Linked DNA regions of Homo sapiens. The protein of the gene in region 1 interacts with the protein of each later gene in a pairwise test. Each region holds a gene or a part of one and is shown on either strand. Other genes may lie near its edges.

The links. The genes of interacting proteins can lie anywhere in the genome.
Region 2: the proteins of RAB5C (region 1) and APPL2 interact in binary tests that used the Homo sapiens proteins (3 or more experiments, as listed by UniProt).
Region 3: the proteins of RAB5C (region 1) and TBC1D17 interact in a two-hybrid assay, tested with the Homo sapiens proteins (one study listed by BioGRID).

The regions. Positions count from the first base shown.
Region 1 is NC_000017.11:42,151,919-42,159,217, forward strand, and holds the start of RAB5C (ras-related protein Rab-5C), read right to left. Parts: upstream 3,072-7,299; 5' UTR 2,975-3,071; intron 2,792-2,974; exon of another isoform or gene 2,482-2,791; intron 1-2,481. UniProt on the Homo sapiens protein: The small GTPases Rab are key regulators of intracellular membrane trafficking, from the formation of transport vesicles to their fusion with membranes.
Region 2 is NC_000012.12:105,232,988-105,241,212, forward strand, and holds the start of APPL2 (DCC-interacting protein 13-beta), read right to left. Parts: upstream 3,188-8,225; 5' UTR 3,026-3,187; coding exon 2,972-3,025; exon of another isoform or gene 1-2,971. UniProt on the Homo sapiens protein: Multifunctional adapter protein that binds to various membrane receptors, nuclear factors and signaling proteins to regulate many processes, such as cell proliferation, immune response, endosomal trafficking and cell metabolism.
Region 3 is NC_000019.10:49,873,444-49,880,888, reverse strand, and holds the start of TBC1D17 (TBC1 domain family member 17), read right to left. Parts: upstream 3,188-7,445; 5' UTR 3,166-3,187; coding exon 3,145-3,165; intron 2,747-3,144; coding exon 2,648-2,746; exon of another isoform or gene 2,533-2,647; intron 2,392-2,532; coding exon 2,317-2,391; intron 611-2,316; coding exon 487-610; intron 1-486. Other genes in the region: AKT1S1 (proline-rich AKT1 substrate 1), read left to right, coding at 4,234-4,286. UniProt on the Homo sapiens protein: Probable RAB GTPase-activating protein that inhibits RAB8A/B function. Reduces Rab8 recruitment to tubules emanating from the endocytic recycling compartment (ERC) and inhibits Rab8-mediated endocytic trafficking, such as that of transferrin receptor (TfR).

The DNA.
Region 1 (7,299 bases):
GTGCCGTGGCGCACTCAGTCTGCATGTTCATTCATTTAACGAACAAACCAGGCCGAAGAAGGGCCCACTGTTAGATCAGGTCACATCTGACCCCAAATCCAAGCCCCAGCTCTACTACTTTCTAAATGTATGATCGATCTTAGGCAAACTACTTAAGTTCCTTCTGCATCCCTTCTAAAGCAGGGACACTTGCCTTATCTTACTCAAAAAAAAAAAAGTAATAATAAAAATTAAAAACAAAGTGGGGAAACAAGCCCCACTATTTCCCAAGGCACCTATGAGGAATATGTATGAAAATAATTTTGCAACCTTAAAATGATTTTTAAAAATTAGTGTTACTGTCCCTCTACAGTTTAACAGCCCTCTAATTGTGAGAGGCAAGAGGGCAGGGGAGGAACAGCATCAGAAAGGAGGGGTTCTGTCGCACACGGAGCCATCGCTCTCTCTGCCAGGCAGAGTCAGACCTCTGCTTGGACTCTATAATTTCTAGGTGCCAGAAGTGGCTGCATAACGACCCAAAGCACTGGGGCCTGCCTCGTCTCTCTAAATGGCAGAGCTTCCCCTTCAAAGTCGTTTCAGGTTGGGTGCAGTGGCTCATGCCTGTAATCCTAGCACTTTGGGAGGCTGAGGTGGGTGGATCATCTGAGGTCAGGAGTTCGAGACCAGCCTGGCCAACATGGTGAGACCCCATCTCTACTAAAAATACAAAAATTAGCTGGGCGTGGTGGTGCATGGCTGTAATCTCAGCTACTCAGGAGGCTGAGGCAGGAGAATCCCTTGATCTCGGGAGGCAGAGGCTGCAGTGAGCCAAGATTGTGCCACTGCACTCCAGCCTGGGTGACAAAACAAGGCTCTGTCTCCAAAAAAAAAAAAAAAGTCGTTTCAGAGTCAGAGCTGGGAGAGCATGTCCAGACAAAGAAAAGAAGGTCTCCTCAGAAGGCTGGTCGGCCTCATCCCAGCACTCCTGAAGAGTGACAAACTGCGGTCTACTCCTGAAGACCTAAGTCTGGTCAGAGACCAATGGCCAGTGAGCAGTCAGGCCTCTCTGGCCCTGCCCCTCAGATGCCCAGGCTGACCAGATCAGAGAAACTAGGTTGGTTGAAGAAGTCTCCAATGAACCCCAAAGGAACCCACACAGATACAGAGCCTGTGATCCAGCTGTTGACCCTAATAAGGAAGGCTTCTTCTGTTGTCCGATAAAAAGTGAAATAAGTAGGCCGGGCACGGTGGTTCACACCTGTAATCTCAGCACTTTGGGAGGCTGAGGCGGGTGGATCACCTGAAGTCAGGAGTTCGAGACCAGCCCGGCCAACATGGCGAAACCCCATCTCTACTAAAAATACAAAAATTAGCCGGGTGTGGTGGCAGGCGCCTGTTAATCCCAGCTACTCAGGAGGCTGAGGCAAGAGAACTGCTTGAACCCAGGAGGCAGAGGTTGCAGTGAGCCAAGATCACGCCACTGCACTCCAGCCTGGGCGACAGAGCAAGACTCCATCTCAAAAACAAACAAACAAAAAAGTGAAGAAAGTACATCCTAGCTCTACTCAAAAGACTGTAGGAATCAGATACTAGCCACTGTCCAGAAGCCCTCAAACACACCTCAAGGCCAAAAAACACAGCACTTTTAAGTGGCAAGCGAGGGTGGTAAAGGTAGCCCAGAACACTGAAGAGCTACAGAAGTTCCCACAAACTGCACGGCTTTCCGTCCCTTCCTCCACTGTAGATAGCAAGGGTCAGTCATGGCCTCAGAGCCAGGCTACTCCTCGTTAAGGTACAGTCTCCGGCCTGTACTTTGGCCACATAACAAAGCTTGGTCTGAGACAGCAGCTATTTCACACACCTAAGCCCCAAGCAACAGACAAGGATCAGTCAATATGGTTGAGGGAACCTGCACTTTCTGGCATGTATCGGAATTCCTCAGGCTACAATTAAAAATCCAGAACTGCCATTGTGATCTTGACTTAGTCCTCAGTAATAAGTCCAAGCCCTGAAGGGATTGCAGACAGACCCTGGCGTGGTGTGGACCTGTTGCTCAGGGAGGTGTATGTGTGTGTGTTTGGGAGTGGGAAAGAGATGGCCCTTCAATTCCAGACTCCTCATTTTGGGTCTTATTCTCCTCCCTATAGACACACGGACAGCAGTCCCAAGAAAAGCAGTCCCTTTGAGGCGGCTGGGAAACCACTCACGTGCTCTGGGAGGACAGAGCTGAGCCTGGAGCAAGGGGGGAGGGGAAAGAAGATAATGAATGGGCACATCCACCCTGATCTGTGATCTGTAGCTAGGATTGAGCAAACCTCAGCTAAATTCTTCAGAGGCAGAAAGAGAGAGACACTCAAAGAACAACATAACTAGAGGACAGGGCTGGGAGACAGAAGGGGCAAAACAGGAAAACAGCTCATTTCTAGTAAGTGACTTTAAACTCAGCTGAGGTCCTGGTTGGTTCTCTGGCTTGAGGAAAGAGAGGAAGTAAGGAGTTGCGGGAGCGCACACACACTTCTGTGCGTGTGGAACGGTCTCACCCAGACGACCCCCCTCCCCCAAAGGAAATCGAGATATTCCTCTAGGGCTAGAGGGGACAACTGGTTTTGTGGGACAGGAGGAAGGAAAACGGCGACAGACAGCACTCCCTGTCACTTCTAAAAGAGAAGAGGGACAGGTTCCTTCACACCTAGCAAAGATCCTCCGATTCTGGAAGCAGGGGGAGCGGAACTTAGGGTACCTCTCTCCCACAACTAGAATGGACAGGCCAGAGGACAGTCATAGCGGTTTCCTTAAGGCTCACCAAAGGCAGGTAAGCTAAGGAAAGAAGCTCCCCACCTCCTATGGCCCGACGCCTGGGGAGCCCCTCAAGAGGGGGCTACGGGTCGGGGGAGGGGTCAGTATCCCCCTAAACTGGGGCTGGGCGGGAGGAAGGGCTGCCCTGGAGATGCTTCAACGCAGGCGAGACACCAGGTCCTGGGACAAGCATACTCACGGCGGCTCCGGGGCGGCGGCGTTACTTGGGGCCGGGGCTCGGACGGGATCCGCTTCTCTCCCCGCCGGCGGTGTCCCAGGCTCCGGCCTCCACTTCCGCCTTTCAGCCGCTCCGGATCCGGATCTCCACCTCCGCCCCGCCCCTCAATACTCCCAGGTGATTGACAGTGCGGAGACCAATGGGAGGCACTCTTGGCCGACCTACCCAGCGGCGCCGGTAGGAACGCGGGAGTGGCGGTAGGGAGCGCGCGAGGGATCGCGGGACTTGTAGTTCGCAGCGCTGGGAGGAGTCAGTGGCTGCCTGGGACTTGGGCTTAGGGTGGAGCCGGCTGACTGCGAGGCGGAGCCCGGCCGGAACTTTTTTTTTTTTTTTGAGACGGAGTCTTACTCTGTCGCCCAGGCTGGAGTGCAGTGGTGCGATCTCACTGCAACCTCTGCCTCCCGGGTTCAAGCGATTCTCCTGCCTCAGCCTCCCGAGGAGCTGGATTATAGGCACGCACCACCACGCCCGACTAATTTTTGTATTTTTTAGTAGAGACGGGGGTTTCGCCATGTTGGCCAGGCTGGTCTCGAACTCCTGACCTCAGGTGATCCGCCCTCTTCGGCCTCTCAAAGTGCTGAGATTACAGGCCTGAGCCACCGCGCCCAGCCTACGGCCGGGAACTTTTTAAGGCTAACCCTGCCATCCGCGTCACCGCCGGTTCCGGACGCCCCGAGGGAAGGCGGGTGGTGGAGCGTTGGAAGAAGGCAGAGGATTGTGTGTGCAGAATTGGGAAAGAAAAAACGTGGTGCGAATGAATATGCACGCGAGGCCTCAGTCCTGTGAACTCGCTGATCTGGAGAAGCCCTTGTCTGCACTGTCCGCCCGATTGCCAGGGGCGTCTGTGATTGGGAAGGTGAGGAAAGCGCTGCAGGAAGAGTTCTCTGCAGGATGCTGGGTGAGATCAAAGGGAGAGCTTCTGCCACCACCTCCTACTTGGTGTGTGCGGGGGCCGGCACAAAGACCATCTCTGCCTCTGCCTTCCCCTGCTCCTAGCCAGGGTCAGCTCTTCTCTCTGACGCGGAATACAGAGCTGGACAACCTCTGCCTCGGCCCTCTCCATCCGTAAATAAAGACTAGAACCACCCCCACTCTGCACTCTCCCCCTCTATGGATCAGGAATATTTGTTTTTTCTGCTCCTCTCAATATGGACTGGGCCCGCTCCTGATTCCTCCCACCCTTACCTCTCAACACAAACCAGTACCTCCTCTTCTTTTGCATCTCATCCTCAAGGGACACTACTGAAAACCTGTGTGGAATCAAAGCTCACCGGAGACAGCTGTGGCCATTGTGCCTATAACGCCAACACCAGGCATATCCTGGAGCCTCAGCTGGAGAATTTACCTGTCTTGGACAACCTGCCACAAAACTGTGCCCACATCTAGTTCCATCTGGTCATCAGGGCGTCTCTCTTTCTTACACCCATAACACACAATCCCCACTTCCGCGCCAGTGTTCATGAGAAGTGAAAAGGAAGAGGGAAGAGAGGGCTTGTTGGGAGGACAGAGGGGATGGGGCAGAGTGGGATTCCTAGCAGGTTCTGGCTGGTGACAAGCTCTTCCCCCAGCCCCCTTGCCATACCCAGTTCTGGAACAGTTCCTTATACAGGAGGGATGGGTAGTCCCCTAGGCCCACCTTTCCAAGGCTGGAGGTGGGCCAAAGCCAGGACTCTGTCCTTCCCACATACTGTGTGCATACATGGCTGTGACTGGGGTGCAGGGGAGAGAAGGGGGTATAATAGGCCCATAGTGACTAATTAAGTTTCTTCCTCAACCCTGGGGCCCCTGGTGGTGTGAATGTGGTGCCAAGTAGATTGGCTGGTGCCTCTGCCCTTCCTAGAGATAGCAACTGGGCCCTGGGGTACAACGAAGGTGAGGGTGGGGAGTGATTGCTGTGTTGGCTCCTCCAAAGCCCTGGGGCTCTCAGAGTAACCCCCAGAAACACCCAGAGCCAATAACTACAAAAATAAAGAGTTTATTTCCTATCCAAAAGTGAGCCCAGGGTGTTGGGTGGTAGAGGAGAGCTGGAGACCTGGGCGAGTTTTGGAGCAGTCCAGGCCCTGAGTGAGACCATGTTGTAATGGGGGAGAACAGGCTTGGCAGCGGTCTGGGGTCAGGGAAAGGATAGGGAGTGCTGTTGGGATTTTTGAGTTGCTAGCAGCAGAAGAGACCACCTTGAGAGACAGCCTGCAGAGAGACAGAAACAGAGATGTTGACAGACCCACGCCTAGGAGTAGAAGCAGACATTACTGGGCCCAAAAAGCACCTGTTGGGCACAGGGACCTGGGAACACACTGTTAGGTAAGGCAGAGGTTGCAAACTCAACCCCTGGGCTCCACCCCGGACATTCCAAATTGGATGAGGCCCAGGAATCTGCTTTTTATTTTTTTATTTTTTTGAGCCTCCGCGCCTGGCAGAATCTGCGTTTTAATAGGATCTCAGGTAGTTCTGATGGACACTCAAGTTTTGAGAACTCAAATACCCACAGAGACCAAACAAAAATTTCAAACAAGGGAAGCTAGCTGGGTGTCGGGAGATGATCAAGAAACGTGGTGACTGCGAAGTAGAGTGCAGAGCAGATCCCATCTAAAGAGGACAGTGGCCACCCAGCCCAGCTGATTGCCAGTTATTGCCAGATGGAATGTTGGCCCACGGTAGCCTGATGTCCTGAGGTTTTTTTTGTTTTGTTTTGTTTGAGCAGGGTCTCACTCTGTCACCCAGGCTGGAGTGCAGTGGTGTGATCACTGCTCACTGCAGCCTCAACCTCCTGGGCTCAAGAGATCCTCCCACCTCAGCTTCCAGAGTAGCTGGGACCACAGGCACACACCACTACACCTGGCTAATTTTTTAATTTGTATAGAGATGGGTGGGGGGGGTGTCTTGCTATGTTGCCCAGGCTGGTCTTGAACTCCTGGATTCAAGTCATCCTTCCACCTCAGCTTCTGGAGTAGCTGGAACCACAGGCACTCACCACTACACCTGGCTAATTTTTATTTATTTATTTATTTATTTTTGAGGTGGAGTTTCACTCTTATTGCCCAGACTTGAGAGCAATGGCACGATCTCGGCTCACTGCACCCTCCACCTCCCAGGTTCAAGCGATTCTCCTGCCTCAGCCTCCCGCGAAGCTGGGATTACAGGCATGCACCACCATCCCAGCTAATGTTTGTATTTTTAGTAGAGATGGGGTTTCTCCATGTTGGTCAGGCTGGTCTCGAACTCCAGACCTCAGGTAATCCACCTGCCTCGGCCTCCCAAAGTGCTGGGATTACAGGCGTGAGCCACCATGCCCAGCCTACACCTGGCTAATTTGAAAAATATTTTGAAAAATATTTTTCAAAATAATCCCAGCACTTTGGGAGGCCGAGGCAGGTGGATCATGAGGTCAGGAGATCGAGACCATCCTGGCTAACATGGTGAAACCCCGTCTCTACTAAAGATACAAAAAAATTAGCTGGGCGTGGTGGCAGGCGCCGGTAGTCCCAGCTACTCGGGAGGCTGAGGCAGGAGAATGGCGTGAACCCGGGAGGCGGAGTTTGCAGTGAGCCGAGATTGCACCACTGCACTCCAGCCTGGGCGACAGAGTGAGACTCCGTCTCAAAAAAAAAAAAATATTTTTATAGGCTGGGTGCGGTGGCTGACACTTGTAATCCCAGCACTTTGGGAGGACGAGGCAGGCGGATCAGGAGGTCAGGAGATTGAGACCATCCTGGCTAACATGGTGAAACCCTGTCTCCACTAAAAATACAAAAAATTAGCCGGGTGTGGTGGCGGGCGCCTGTAGTCCCAGCTACTTGGGAGCCTGAGGCAGGAGAATGGCATGAACCCAGGAGGCGGAGCTTGTAGTGAGCTGAGATTGCACCACTGCATTCCAGCCTGGGTGACAGAGTGAGACTCCGTCTATAAAAAAATATATATATATATATTTTTTTTATAGAGATAGGGTCTCGCTATGTTGCTCAGGTGGATCTCAAACTCATGGACTCAAGCGATCCTCCCACCTCGGCCTCCCAAAGGGCTGGGATTATAGGCATGAACCACTGTGCCCAGTGCTACATTTTGTAGAGAAATTGGAATATCTGTATTCCTATATAACCTGTCTCTTTTTTTTATTTTGAGACAGAGTCTCACTGTCGCCCAGGCTGGAGTGCAGTGGTGCGATCTTGGCTCACTGCAACCTCCGCCTCCCGGATTCAAGCGATTCTCCTGCCTCAGCCTCCCGAGTAGCTGCGATTACAGGCATGTGCCACCATGCCCGGCTAATTTTGTATTTTTAGTAGAGATGA
Region 2 (8,225 bases), on another chromosome or scaffold:
TTCTTTGTTCCGTTATGCCAATCGCAAAAGAAACAAACAAAACACAAACCGAGCAAGCAACAGTGCTGTTGTCTTCACCTTACCTCAAAAGTGTACTACTTACAGGACAAGAGAATAAGCCCCTGAAGAAGTACAAGCTGCAGGAGCTCAAAGCTGCATTTGTGTTCCTATCGCAGCAGGATTCACACTGTACTGGAACTGTTGCCTCATTATCTGTCTCTGGAACAAACTGTGAACCAGTCAAGGGTAGTCACTCTTATTTATCTTCACATTCCCAACAGCCAGTAGTGCCAGGCAAGGAGCAGAGGCTTCTAAACAACAATGGAGGCAGATTTCTTAATCCCTAAAATGTTCAGCTTCCCACATATGAGAGGTAAGCAGAAATAACGCATGTGTATGCACACAGACTAGTTTTACAATGCATCGTGCAGCACTGCAAACTAAAAAGGAGTCCATGAATAGATGTGTCTAAGGTCAGTTAACTGCTATTCAGCTCTTCCTGGGTCACTCAGTTCAATTACAAAAGCTTTGGTGTTCATTTAATTCATCCTGTGCAATCACATTACTGAAGCAACTCTCAAAATTACTCTTCATAAAACTAGAAGAAACACACAATAGATGGTTTATTAGGATCTTTTCCTTTTAGTGAAACATTTTAGGTCACTGATGACAGAAAAGCCCGGTGCTAGATAGCTGGGCTAACTTGAACCATATCCCTAGTACAGGCAAGTTGCCTGGGTTCCAGTCCTGGCTCTGTCACTTTATGGTGTATAATTCTAAGCAAATTACTTCTCTGCTCCTTAGTTATTTAAATAGAGAATGTACTTCAAGACTATTGGGAGGATTGAGTGAGTTAATATATGTAAAGCATTTAGAAGAGTCCCTGGCACATAAAATCCATGAAACAGGCATTTGCTATTGTTTTTATGCTTTGCACATAAAATGAAGGGGATGGATTAGATTCCTTCCAGTTCCAAGTCTAGGAGTCACCTTGGGAGTAAAGCTACATTAGGCACAGGTCACATACAAGAGAGTAGTATATAAATATGCTCTGATGATCATTAAAGACCTTCTTAAAGTCAGCTTCCATTCTGCACAACAGCACCATCAAGAGCCCTCTTAAGGGTGATGGCCAAGTCTCAAAAGCAATGACAAATAAACTTCCTATATTAAAAGGAACATATTAAATAAGAATGATAATATCTCTAAACCTCCTCTGCCACATACAAGTTCAAAGTTATACACCATGTAGATATGACAATGTTAACTCTAAAGCACCTTGAAGATCACCTGCTCCCTCCCTGTCTCTCATTCTGTAGATGTTCTGTAGATTAGGAAACTGAGCCAGCTACAGGGTGGAGATGAAGAGACTCACCCACATCACATCCTAAGTGAGCGTGAGAGCCAGAATTAGAACCCAGGTCTCCTGACTTGCTCTACAGTCCTGTCTACTTCCTCACAGCTGGGCAAATCCTTTAAGCCACTCACAAACAGTGTATATTCCTTTATGTTAGAGCTGGAAATTAAGAATATGATCTGTTTGTGAGGACAACATCAAGAATCAGTTAGTATAATCACTGTAACCTGGCTTAGGCATCACCATGTAGGTTAGAAAAGCAGGATATTTCTGTGCACCTCAGTTTCCATAAGTGCAAGGCAAACAGAGATCCTTGTTCAAAGTGATCATTTAAAATCTCACATTGCTATCTTCAGATTCCACACAACAGATATGAACATGGACAAAATGCCTTCTACCAAGGGCTTTAGTCTGATTAAAATGCCAGGAGTCTACAGCCATATAAAAAAGGGAGGCCTTGAAAAAGTCGTCCAGAGGATGCAAACTTACCAAAAAACAAAACAAACAAACAAAAAACACACACACAGCTTGCTTCCAGTTCCTTACTTATCTACACTAGGAGGATCACAAAAAATGAACAAAAGACACCTATGCATACAGCCCTTCGGACTTATTCTGAACTGTCGATGTAGGTAAATCCATACAAGGATCATCCTGGGAAGTATTATTCACTTAGAAGAAAAAGGGAAGGAACCCCAAAAGAGAGGGGAAAGTGTGAAACGAAAATAGGTTAATCTTATTCTAAGTTTTCAAGAGTTGAGACACTAGGAAATAAAGGCACTTATTTAAATAAACCCGGGATGCTGAACCAGGAGTGTAGGTACGAAGCTGGAGAAATGTTAAACAAAGGAGAACAAAAGACCCCTGGGGAAAGATGTGCTGAATTATGAACTAATGTCATCCTGCACTCATTTGCTATATTTACACACCAGTTTTCATCTGCAGAGCTCAAAGGACTTGACTCTCATCTCGAGTGTGCTAATGAAGTTCCCTTGTGCGACAAATGGGGCAGGTACTGTATTTTTCTCTTCACTAATGGGAAAACGGTGCCAAAAGGAGGCCTGGTACCGCCGGAAAAGAGATCCAGGCCCTCTGCCTCTCATTCTGGCTGGCACAAGTCTCATCACATCATTAGGAGTAGCAGTAATAAGACTGACTCATTATCTGTACCGGACATTGTCTGCTGACAACTTTACAGGTATTTCTCATTGACTTCTCCTAACAACCCTATGAAGCAGGCACAATTATTATTCCTATTTTACAGACGACAAAACTAAGGCACAATAAGGTGGTTTTCCTGAGGCACTCAGCTACTACATGGAATCAAAGTTTAGATCTCGCAGACTCAGTTGCAGCTGAGCTTGCAGGGGGGTCACGACATCAAGACTCCGGCCGCGGGGCTCTCTCCCCTGTTCCACAGCTCTGCCCCGGCTCAGGACTCAGGGCCCGGCCCGCCCCCTCCTCAGCCCGAGAGAACCCGGTGGGAGGCGCCGCGAGGGGGCCGGGCGCACTCCCGCGGCTGCCCGGCCGGGGGCGCGGCCTCCACTCCGGGGCTGGAGGGGCCTCCTCGGCCTCACCCCTGCGGGCGAGGGGCACCGGAGCGGCGGGAGGTACCTGGGGGCTGTCCTGCAACGCCTCCTCTAGCAGGAGCTTGTCCACGGCGGGCATGGTGCGGCGCGGCTCAGCCGAGGGCTGGGTTGGAAGGACAGAGGGCAGGAGACGCGGCGGCCGAGAGCACTCCCCGGCTCTGGGCTCAGGCGACGCGGCGGCCACTCCGTGCCCGCGGCGGCCCCGCGCGCGTCCACGCCTGGCCAGTGGCCGCCGCCGCCTGCCCGCCGGCCCAGCCCCCGGCCGAGCCGGATCAACAGGAAGTGTGGCGCGCCCGGCAGGGAAACCGGAAGTGTGGTGAGCTCCGGTCCCGACACCGGAAATGTGGCGCCCGCGCTTCCGCCTGCGCTCGCCGGCTCGCGGGGAGCGGGGGGCTCTGGGTGCCAGTCCCGTTGCTGAGGGAACCCTTCGGGTGTTTGTTCTCTGTGCTGAAGGTCCGTCAAGTCAATGCATATGAAGTCCAAAAGAGGAACTCGAGGGTAGAAAGATAAGGTTTTATCTGCTTATGGCTACCCAGAAAGCCTTTTGAGTTGAAGGAGCGAACAGATTTTTTCTTTTAATGGAAGGAAAAACCCACACTTCCCACACCACTTTTTCTAGATAAATTTCGACGCCCCTGAAACAGCTCTGAGAGCAAAGAGGTCGCCTATGCTATGGGAACAAAGAAAAGAGGAGAAAAGCTGGATAACTGACTCGTCTGTGATAATCAGAAATAACCACTTTGGAAACCACAGCTATTTGATGTGGTCATAATTAGGTCTCGTCCTCCTGGTTTATGTTTTGTGATTTTGGAGAATTTCATAATCAAATGTTTAGAATTGGAAGGGCTAGATAATCTAGGTTCCAGTGTTGTCATTTAGAGATGAGAAAATGGGACCCAGAGAAATAAGTGGTCTGCCCAGGGTCAGTTAGTAAACGCCAGAGGAAGAAAAGAAGGAAGGGAGAGGGATGGAAGAAGACTGGCAAGTGGAACGTGACACCTTTTTACACGGAAGGCAAGGGTTTCTGAAGTTCCTTCTTTAGAAGTTAATAAGACTGGCCGGGCGTGGTGGTTCACGCCTGTAATCCCAGCACTTTGGGAGGCCGAGATGGGTGGATCACGAGGTCAGGAGTTCAAGACCAGTCTGGCCAAGATGCTGAAACCCCGTCTCTACTAAAAATACAAAAATTAGCCGGGCGTGGTGGCATGCGCCTGTAATCCCAGCTACTCGGGAGGCTGAGGCAGAAGAATCACTTGAACCCGGGAGGCAGAGGTTTCAGTGAGCCGAGAGGGCACCACTGCACTCCAGCCTGGGCAACAGAGCAAGACTCCGTCTCAAAAAAAAAAAAAAAAATCATGCAGTATGTGTGTCACCAAAATCAACAGAGGGGATATGGTAATATATAAATTCTGCATTCTGCAGAGACCTCTTAGGTATATCAAGACCCAATCTGCATTGCTGACACCTCTGACAGTCTAGTATAGTAGCATGCTGCCTGATCACTTGAAAACTCCAAGGCCATTATTCCCTTGGTCTGGCCAGCGCCAACCTGACCTGAACCATTTTATGGCCTCCATCTACCATATTTTCCTCCACAGTATTCTTTCTTCCCTATTCTTTCTTGCCTCCACCATACTCTTGTCTTCCCTATAGGTGGAATCATGCTCACACCATATTTCTTCCCTTTCCTCTATTTTATACCGCCTGCCATTCAGTTCATTTTACCTCATCCAGTGTCCCAGACTCTCTTCTCACTGAAATCTAATTCCTCACGGCCAGACTCATGCTCTTCCTTCATCCTGATTGCGAGAACAGTACAAGGATAGTATTATACCCAGGGAAATAAATGTGCACATTTTAATTTGAAAATATGCATTACAAGAAGTTAGTGCCCTCAGAACCCTTGAAAGGGCTCAGACAGCCCCTTGGGAATCACAGCATTTTTCATGTACCACCTCATCTTCTAATTAAAGTTACTTTTCTTCAAATACTAGTATTCAACATTCAAAAATTGTTTAAGCTATCCCATTACTTTTCTGCATTTTCTTGCTACATTATGGGCTAAACAGCCTTAGTGGGATTTCTTGGAACTTAAGAACTGTTTACAACATTGTTTCTATGGGAAAATCTATCCCAAATTCAAAACAACTAAGTTACAAAAGTAGATCTGGAAATACAACACATGCATAAATGGTTTTAATTTATCTCATTTGTTAATTCATCCAATCATTCATTCATGTATTAAATATAGACTGCTCAGTGTTAAGCACTGTCTCCCACTTGTTTGATTCTCATTTAAATTCTGAAGGCAAATATCCTCTCCTTTGATAATCTGTGAGAAACTACATAAGAGGAATTTTTATGTCAACATGAACATTTAAAAATGTTTCATTAAAGAGTATATATCTGTTCCTATTAAACTATTATGCAGGTGGATTTTAGAAATCCACCCCACTGTCTCTGAAATCCCTGGTCAGCTGTGAAGTTGGTGACAGGAAGTATAAAGATGGACAGTCTGGAGTTGTCGTGATGTCTGAAGAGAGAGAGGATGAATTATATGGAGGTGTAACCTGTGACCCATTGAAGGCCAGTGGGGAAAAGGACACAGTGAGACACAAAAAAAGGACCCAGGATGGCCAGGTCAGAGAAGGCCTGGGGCTTCAGGAGTAAGAGAGAAAGGCAGGAGTGAAGAAGGCAGCTGTTTTGGGAGATGCTTAGCAAACTGCATGATAGGGCACACGCATTGAGATTCTTTCCTCTGCCAGTCAAGCCCTTTCTCCTGCCTCTTGTCTGACAAACCCAACCACAATCATCAAATCCCAGTTTAATGTGACTTTTTTGATGAAGTCTTCATTTACTCCTGTCCCCCCAAGCAGAATACATTTTCCTTTCCTTGAGTGTGCTTCAGTAGCACTTGCCGAGATAATTCTAGAATAACACTTACCTCTCTTTGTTTCCACCTCCAACCTTCCAGCTAGAATGGGTAGGAACTTGGTCTTATTTATTTCTGTAATTAGAGTGCCTAGTACATTACCTAGCACAAAAGCAGTTGCTTGATAAATACTTACTAAACTATAATGTGTTATTATAACTTATACATGATTGATACTCCAGAGTTTAAAAAATGTTTTCATGAATCTCATTTCATTTGATAGCACAATGCTGCTTTTGCCGTTAATCATTCACTAGGTAGCACCGACTGTGTGTTAGACTCTTCTCTAGAAGCTGAGGATATAGGCTGAAGCAAAAAGTAGTCCTTGCCCTAATGGAGTTTATATTCTAATGGAGGAAATAATAAGAAACAAATACAAGTTGATAAGTGTATGATAACCTTTAGTAAAGGAATAGAGGATCATGGGAAGTGGAAAGGATTCTTTGAGGTGTGCAACTGTTGAGCTGAGAATTGAATCAGGGAAGCCCAGCCCGAAGGAAAGAACAAGTGTGAGGGCCCTGAGGCTTGCTCCTCTTTGAGGAGGAGCAGAAAGGCCAATGTGGCTAAGGACAGCGAGGCGGGAAAGAGTGGGAGGAGATGAGGTTGAAGAGATGCCAATCACTGGCTCACAGAGGACGCTGAGTCCATGGGGAAGGACTTTGGGTGTTGCTCTTGATATGGCAGGAAGCCACTGTAAATATGAGCAACTGAATGACAGGGTCTGATTTACATTTTTAAAGACTATCTCTGGGTTCTGAAGAGGCTTTTGCAATCCTTCAAGCAAGAGATTTGAGAGATATAGGTCAAAGTCGAGGGTATGGAAATGTTGGGAGGTAGTTGAAGTCTGAACATATTTTGAAAGTAGAACTGACAGGATATGCTGGATGTAGTATGTGAGAGAAAGTGGGAAAGCCATTGGGCAAATGGTCCTGTGATTTACTGAGACAGAAAACCCTGGGGAGAAGCAGGTTGTTGGTGGTGGCGCATCAATAGTGCTGTTCAGGCTGTTGTGATTGAGATGCCCGTTAGGCAATCAAGTGGAGGTTTCATGTGGGTACTTGTATATACCACTCAAGTTTAGGAGGAGACTGGGGCTGAAGGTATAAATCCATGAGTTCACCAACATGGGGACGTTATTTAAACCAAAAGAGTAGATGAGATTTCTTAGGAATCTAATACAGAAAGGAAAGAGGAAAGCTTGGTGGATTGAGGCCCAAGCAAGATCCAGCAGCTAATGGTGTAGGAGGAATATCAGGAGACTAATAGACCACCCTAGAAGCCCTATGAATGGGAAACTTGGAGGCACTACTATACTAAAAGCCAGGGGACAAAAGGTTTCAAAAATGAATTGATCCACAATGTCAAATGCAGCTAAGAGATCAAGTAAGAATAAAGACCAGAAATTGACCTTTAAATTTGCCAATAGGAAGGTCATTCGGTGAATTTGGTAAGAGACTTTGATAAGAGCAATTTTATTTGAAAGCAAGATGGTGTCTGTTCAAGAGCAATGGTGGGAATACAAAGACAATTCTTTCAAGAGGTTTTTCAATAAAGGGAAGTGGTTGAAGGGGAAGTGACTGCAGGGGATGATTTAAAAAAAGGGAGGTTTTTGGTTTGTTTGCTTGTTTTAAAATAGAAAAGTTGTAGACTTTAGGCAAGGTATTTAATCTTTCTGAGCTTCAGTTTACTTCCCTATGATATGAGAATGGCATTACCAATCACAAGTTGTTTCCATACACACCTGTCTCTATGTCCTGTATTAGTCAAGACTTTTTAAGTGGCAAATCACAGAAACCTAACTCCAACTGGCTTAAAGAAAACATAAAAGTCTGAAAGAGATTGGATTTCTTAGATTATTTATATGCTGATGAGAATGATCCAGTAGAGTGGGGGAAAAGCTAAAGATATGAGAGAGAGGTGACAATTGCAAGAACAAAGTCCTTGAACAGACAAAAAGGAGTAGAATCCAAATCACAAGTGATAGGCTTGGGAGGCTGAGGCAAGTCGATCACTTGAGGCCAGGAGTTCAAGACCACCATGGTGAAACCCTGTCTCTCCTGAAAATACAAAAATTAGTCGAGCATGCGTGTGAGCACCTGTAGTCCCAGCTACTTAGGAGGCTGAGGCAAGATAATCGCTTGAACCCAGGAGGCAGAGGTTGCAGTAAGCCAAGATTGCACCACTGCACTCCAGCCTGGGTGACAGAGTGAGACTCTTTAAAAAAAAATGCAAAAAACAAATCACAAGGGATAGGGATGGCCTTAGATAGAAGCAAGGACAGTACGTTCATAGTGATACAAGAACAGTAGGTTGGTAGATTAAATGGGAGGAATGAAGGCGTTCTATT
Region 3 (7,445 bases), on another chromosome or scaffold:
CTGCCTCTGGCTTGCACGGGCTGCTCTCTCTGCCAGAAGAGAAAACTCCCAAGAGTCCCTCAGTGCCAAGCTCCAGCATCACCTCTTCCTGGAAGGAATCTCCATTCCCCAGAGGGGTCACGTGCCTTCTCTGGATGTCCCCTGCACCCTGTGTGACCCCAGGATGGTGCAAATCACCCTAACTGGCTGCATCTGTCACCCCACCAGCCTCGAACCTCAGGGGCAGGCCTGGTGTGGGAGCACCCACAGCCAATCCGGGAGCCCAGTAGGATGAGCAAGGCTGCAGTCTCAGAGACACTGGCCATGTTGACCTGGGCTGGGACAGTCCTGTCTTCCCATTCACTTCCATGCTCCTGGGACTGGAAGGTGGTGACTGGTGGCCTTCTTGATTGTGGGCAGCAAAGCCCTTGGGACCGTGACCACTGAGGGCAAGATGTGTCCTACCTGGCCCACACGTGCTTCTCAAGGGCCGCCACCTCAGCCTACCTCTCGTGGGCTCTGAGTGGCAGAGCTGTGGCCGCACAGTGCTGATGACAGCCCAGTCAGGTTCATAGCCGGGGTCAAAGGTTGGTTCCTCCTCAGAAGCACATGAGTCACCCCCACTGGAGTCCTTAGGAGAGGAAAGGAGCAGACAGTAAGGGGCCATGGATTCAGATCTTAGCCTCGAGGCTACCCTGGAAGATAGCCCCATTGAATAAAGAGGGAAACTGAGGCACAAAGAAGGTACAGCAGGCCGGGTGCGGTGGCTCACGCCTGTAATCCCAGCACTTTGGGAGGCTGAGGCGGGCGGATCACCTGAGGTCGGGAGTTCGAGACCAGCCTGACCAATATGGAGAAACCTCGTTTCTACTAAAAAAATACAAAAAAATTAGCCAGGCATGGTGGCGCATGCCTGTAATCCCAGCTACTCGGGAGGGTGAGAAAGGAAAATCGCTTGAACCTGGGAGGCGGAGGTTGCAGTGAGCTGAGATGGCGCCATTGCACTCCAGCCTGGGCAACAAGAGCAAATTCTGTCTCATTAAAAAAAAAAAAAAAAAAAGAAAAAAGAAAGTACAGCACTTGCTCAGGGTCACCCAATGCAGCCAGAGAGCGAGCCAGGACTTGACCCCATGTCTCCCACTGCATGGGGAGGTCCATGCTACACAGCAGGTGGCTCTGCAGTCAGGCTGCGGAGTGCTCAATGGACACTGTTGTACTCACCAGGTAAATACAAACCAAAACCACAATAAGATACCACTTTGCACTCTTTTGAGACAGTGAGACTGTCAAAAAAAAAAAAAAAAAACAATAACAACAACAAAAAAAACACACTACATTTCCCAGGTTTCTTTGCAGCTGGAATCCAGGACACAGGACAAATTCTACCAACCAGATGCAGGCCAACCTGGAAAGCGGAAGTGATGTAACGCAACTTCCTGGTGCCTTGGCTGTGTTTGGCTGTGGAGCAAGGTGGAGAGTCATCTTCATCTTCATCTTCATCCTCCTGCCCTGGGGCAGCGCAGGTGGTCAGCTCAGCCTTCCAGTGTCTCGTCACTAGCTCTGTGGGTGCCGACTGACTTCCGGCCCCTGGGTGGAACTCATCAGCTCCAATGGAGGTCTCATTCCCCACTAAAGAACCCCCCTACAGAGGCATCCAACTTCTCCGTGTGCCTTGAAGGTTGTTCTGCTGTCCCTGAAATACCTTCTTGTCCTTTCATATCCTGGGAGTCCCAGCTCAAATGTCTGCTCTCCCAGGAAGCGTTGGGGATCTGGAATCAGACTGTCTGGGTGCAAAAAGTTCCAACACTTCCTAGCGTTTTCGACCTCATCTATCAGTTTCTCAAAAAGTGAGTAAGGGTCAGGGCTTAGGTGGGTCTGGATCTGACTTATCTCTGGGTCTCAGAATTGCCCAGGACGGGGTCCAGCCATGGGAAGTCCCAGGAGACATAACGAAGGGAAAGCCGGGAGCAGTGACGAAGTGGGTGAGTAGGCTGTCAGGCCCTGTCCTCTGGCACCAGAGGAAATGCCATTTCCCTTCAAGCAACTCGAATCCACATCTTGCACCCTGGCAGGGATCTCCCAAGAAGCAAAGGGAGAGAGGGGTCAGCCGTCCCCACGACCGTGCGTCTTATGCTCCCTGCTCTTTTTCCTTGAATGGGCATCCTCTGCCCATTTCACAGAGAGGAGCAAAAGGAGAGGCAGAGTACCCAAGCCTAAACAGGGTCACACATGCCCCACGAGTAGGTCTGGGATTGTACGCAGGTCCCTCAAATGACTTACAACAGCACGGACCTAGAAAAAAAGCGAGTGGAGAAGGGCAAAGCGGGTGGAGCCTACCTTCTTGGAGAAGAGGATTTGGGTGGAATCTCCAGCCTCCTCTACAGGAGCCCAGTGCAGGAGGACGTCATTGTCCTAGGGTAAGGAGGGAGGCGGGGTTAGAGGCGCTCCCCAAACCACATTCCCAAAACTTTCCGTTGCAAATTTCCAAACTTTCCCAGTTTCTACCCTCAGCCTTTCAAAGTCCCGCCCCTCATTCCAGTTCCCACACCCAGCCTTCTTCAGGTCCCACTGCTGACCGCCAGACCAAACTCCTACAGCTGCCGCCTGCATCCCAGACCGCCTGCATCCCGCTCGGAGCGGGTCCGAGCCCTGCTCCCTCCCAGCGCACCTTTTCCACGACACGGATGACACCAGCGATGAGAGAGTCTCGGTCCTGATACTTCTTAGCGCTGGTGTGCAGGTACACTCCGCCCTTCTCAAACACCACCTGAGTTGGGGGGAACCAGCGAGGGCTGGGGCCCAAGCGAGGGGACCAGCCTGGGGAGCCAATAGGGACGGGCCCAGGGAGGAGCCACCCTCAGGGGGCGGGGCCGGGAGGGCCATTGCCCCGGGACCAAGGCGGGGAGAATGGTCCAGCCCGCGTTCGGATGCTGACGTGCGTTCCACAGGGGGCAGGGCTCAAGGAGTCGCCTGAGCCGGGGGGGCGGGGCCATGGGAGGTTCTTCCCTGGGGCGGTGGACGGGAGGGTGACGGCGCGTTTATAAGAGATCGGTGTTTGCCAAGGCCGTGCCGGATTCTCGAGAGCCAAGGCCTGAGAGAAGAGCTGATCACTAGACGGGGCGTTTCGCATACACTGAAGCGAGGGAATGCGTCCTCAGTGCTTACCCTGTAGCCGGCTCCTTCCATAGTCGCCGCCGAAGGCCCCACTGCCCCGCCTCCTCCTTTTCCTAGTCAGCGTGTTGTCACTTCCGGAGAAAACAGTTCCCCTCCGGGCCGGACAGTGGTAGCGGCCCGACCCGTTCTAGAGAAGGAGCGGGTGAAACCATTTTTCAGAAGGGGGTTATTCCACTGGAACCTCGAGGGTGGATCGGAGTCACGTGGCGCAGACGCTGAAGGTGGATCCGGCTACGGAGAGTGCGCAGGCGCAGTGTTCGCCCTCTCGCCACGAAGTAAACAAGTGGGAGGGTCTGAGAGCTGCACCACCTGGGGCAAGCACGCCTTGAAACGCCCACTTCCTTCTCCATATTGTATACTGGAATTGAAGCCAAGGAGGTACCATTTTGCTCGAGGGCATGGCCTAAGCCGGTCAGCTAAGGCCATGTTAATACGGGGCTGTCCCATCTCTCTGCGGGGCGCGACAGCTGGAAGAGCCGAACGGATAAGAGAAGAGGAGGTGAGAGGAGCTGTACACCACAAGAGGCACTGAGGGACTCAGGATAACGGGATGAAGCCGTCAGTGCCCCCAGAAACGAAGCGGCCCCGGACGAATTTCTGAGTCACCGTCGCGAGAAAGCGGGCTGAGCCGCCATTTTGAAGCCTGGCAAACCGAAGCAAGAAATGCTGCCGTGTTGGATCTTTGCCAGCCTTCGTGCCGAATGGGAGCAGGTTGGAGGGAGGGAGAGCCAATATACACTATGGGCTGATTAAGCCCGGTTGGCTGCCATGTTGTTAACGAGCACCGATTTCCTCTACTTTTGTCGAAGAAGTTTATTGTGGGTCAGGGACGTCAGGTCGCTTGCCTTCGTTTACTGTGGTCATGATTGAGCATATGAGGACGGCCATTATTGTTGGGGGCAAATGGAAATGCTCTAGGCGGGGCCATTTTTCTTAGGGGCAAGCTGTCGTCACCCTTGTCAACTGGTTCGGATGAAGCCCCTGTGGCCGCCATCTTGATCTCGGGCGGCCCCGATAAGGGAGGCGGAGTGTGCGGAGAGGAGGCGGGGCAACTGCGCGGACGTGACGCAAGGCGCCGCCATGTCTTTTGAGGGCGGTGACGGCGCCGGGCCGGCCATGCTGGCTACGGGCACGTGAGTGGAGGCGGCGTTGTTAACCGCGGTGTGGGGAGGATTTGGCCGTCCTGAGGCAGCGGGGCGCTGGGAGGGCGAGCGGCTCACGGGAGGGGTATGGCCTGCACAGATCAGAGGGCAGAGGTCTGCCAGCGATCCTTTGCTGAGCGCTGGAAGGGGGTCGCCCGTGGGAATCGTCCTGTCAGACCTGAGGCAAATCGTAGACAGTCTCACCTTGCGGTTCCAGAGCGCCTGGGATCTCTACCTGGGCCGTGGACCACGTCCACGGGGTCGGGGGATGGTTTGGGGGGCCTCGGGGCGCCCCTCACCCGTCCAAAGGCGGGACTTCCGGTCCTGGCCTCCGTCTGGGCGGGATTTCCTGTTTTCTTCCTAGACCAGTGGGTCCTCCCTGGACCCCGGGCGAGGTTGGGAGGTCTCGGGGCAGCTGAGCGTGGCCCCAGGCGCTCACCCCATGGCTACCGCGTTCATGCTCAGGTTCCTCACATCTTGGGGTGTGGGGTACTAAAATTTCGACAGGAGGGGTGGTTCCACCCCTCTCCTCCTTAGCTCTTTTCCCTCCTCCCTGCATCCAAAGAGGACAGCCACATCGTGCTCCCCCTCCTGTGGGGAACACGTCTCACTTTCCTCTAATCTCTCCCTGATCTTACACGAAACTCGTCTATCGGGGCGGGTTCTTCCTCCATCTCTCAGCTCCTTGGAGGAAACAGGACCTCCTCTAGAAGCTGAAGGGTAAGGAGGACCCCCAGGTCTTGGCTACTCTCCTGTTGGGTAGCATTACAGGGTGCCCCTGGACCTTGGCAAAGAGGTCTGTGGAAGTCGCCCTGTCCTTTTTGCTCATGTCTCCTGAGTTGGGGGAGCCCTCACAACTCACTCACCCTATTTCACTCTTTAATCCCGTGGCTACTCCAAGATTGAGTACACGGAGAGTTCATCCTGACGTTCTCTTCCGGGACCTCCTCTCCCCCTCTTCTCCGCATGTCATTAGGGGCTGGAGGCCCGTGGAAGTGAGAGCCCCAGGCCTAGCACGGCGAGGCAGTTGACTTTGGACCAGCCATTTCTTGCTTAGAGCCTCAGTTTCCTCCCTCATCAGCTGGGAAGGACATGGGTGTGTTTGAGACACCGGGTACCCCCCAGTTCAGTGGGGTTTTGGGGCTGGGCAGTCAGCAGTTTCAGCCCCACTTGTGCCCTGTGTAGCTGTGTGCTTTTTTGCCAGTGTCCTAAGCTCTCTGAGCCTCACAGTTTCAGCCCCACTTGTGCCCTGTGTAGCTGTGTGCTTTTTTGCCAGTGTCCTAAGCTCTCTGAGCCTCACTTTTCCATCTGGATTAGAATATCTGCCCTCCTAAAGGCAGGCAGGATGGCGGTCAGGATTTAGAACAGGCCCCGGATCTAGACTTTCTGAGTCCAGGTCCCAGCCCTGCCTCTTCCAGTTGTGGCCCTTCAAGATGCTGACTGCCCCTGGGCCTGAGTTTGCAACTGTAAAATGGGGTGAACTGTAACTAAAGCTCCTGTCTCATAGTGTAGGTGAAAGGGTGGGATGAGAAGGTTGATCCCATCTTGGGTCCTTGCGTGGCTTCTGGGAGGTGGTGGATAAACCTCTTCCTTCCCTTGGGGCTTTGAACTCCCTGAGTGAGTCAGATAGGTGAGATGCCAGGTGTGGAATCCCAGCACTGAATAGGTGCTCAGCAAACACCAACATCAATGATCGTGAGTCATAAAAGGCCTGCAAATTTCATTCAGACTCCAGACTCCCTGCTCCCTTCACCCTGGTGGGCTGGACCACAGCTGTGCCTGAATCCGTGCAGTGGCGGTGTGCTTACTGCCTCCCGGAAGAGCGTCTTCCGCAGCCCAGCAGCTCTGGCTCAACCACGCTGGTTAATGGGGAAGAAAATGAGGCACAGAGAGGGCCAGTGAGCCATCTAAGGTCACACAGCAGGTTTGAGACAGAGTCAGGGCAAGGACCCAGCCCCCCTGCCCTCGCTCTTCTCACCCAGTAAGGAGACGCACCCTGCATTGTCTGCTTAGGGCCGACCTGTCCTGCAAACACAAATCCCTGACCTTGGGGGAATTCACAGTCTGATGCAGGAGGCAGCCAGGTTACAGCTGTCACAAGCTCAGGTGACATGAATGCTCATGGAGGAAGCCCAGGGCATCGGATGGGCTCCTGAAGTCATCTGATGCACCCTGGGGGATCAGGGACAACAGAGGACCTGCCAGAACAGTCTTGTAGGAAAAGCCGTGTGGATTTCCCAGCACAGAGAGCAGCGCCAGCACCATTTCAGCCCCGACTCTCTGAGGCCTCAGTCATAGAACCAGCCAGTTCCCTCTGGAAGGAAGTGTGCTGGGAAGGTGGCCACTCAGACAGTGTGGGACCCCCTATGGAGCAGACTGGCTGGATCTATGGGCGAGGGAAAGTTTCTTCCACCCTAGGATGAGTGAAAGGTTGGTGGGGAATGGAGCACAAGTCATCAAGGTCAGGGACCACGTTTTCTGAAGGCCTCGGGCCTCAGAGGCTCTGGAAGGCCGTGGAGGCAGGATGGCCCAGGAGCTGGGGATGGCCAGAACACCTAGAGCCTCCAGGGCCTGCCCTGAGGACTATGGCGAGGAGTAGCATCAGCTCCGGGTGCTGAAGGAACCCCCTGGGCCTTGTGCAGGACACTCTTGACGGGATGGCTGGGCGACGGAGCAGGGTGGCATCATCCATCAAATTCAACACAAGCCCCACGTGGAATTCTAAATTTTCTAGACACCATGTTAAAAGAGTAAAAAAAGCAGATGAAATTCCTTTTTTTTTTTTTTTTTGCCCAGGCTGGCTTCGAACTCTTGGGCTCGGTGATCCGCCTGCCTCGGCCTCCCAAAGTGCTGGGGTTGCAGGCCTGAGCCACCACGCCCGGCTCGTTCGGCTTTATTGTACTCAGTCTTCAGAACCCAGTGCAGGTTTTATTGTTAGAGGCCTCTCTGCTAGGACTCTCTGCTAGGACTCCCTGCCTTTCCAGTACTCCCTGTTCACATGTGGCTGGCGGCTCCCACAGAGGCCAGGGCAGGGCCAAAGGGGAAGGAGTACAGTGACTTGGGGCAGGAGGAATGGGTTGGGGCAGAGGACGTCGCCAGGGTCTGGGCCTGCGAGGACTGGATGGTGAGAATCCTGGGGAGTAGCAGGTT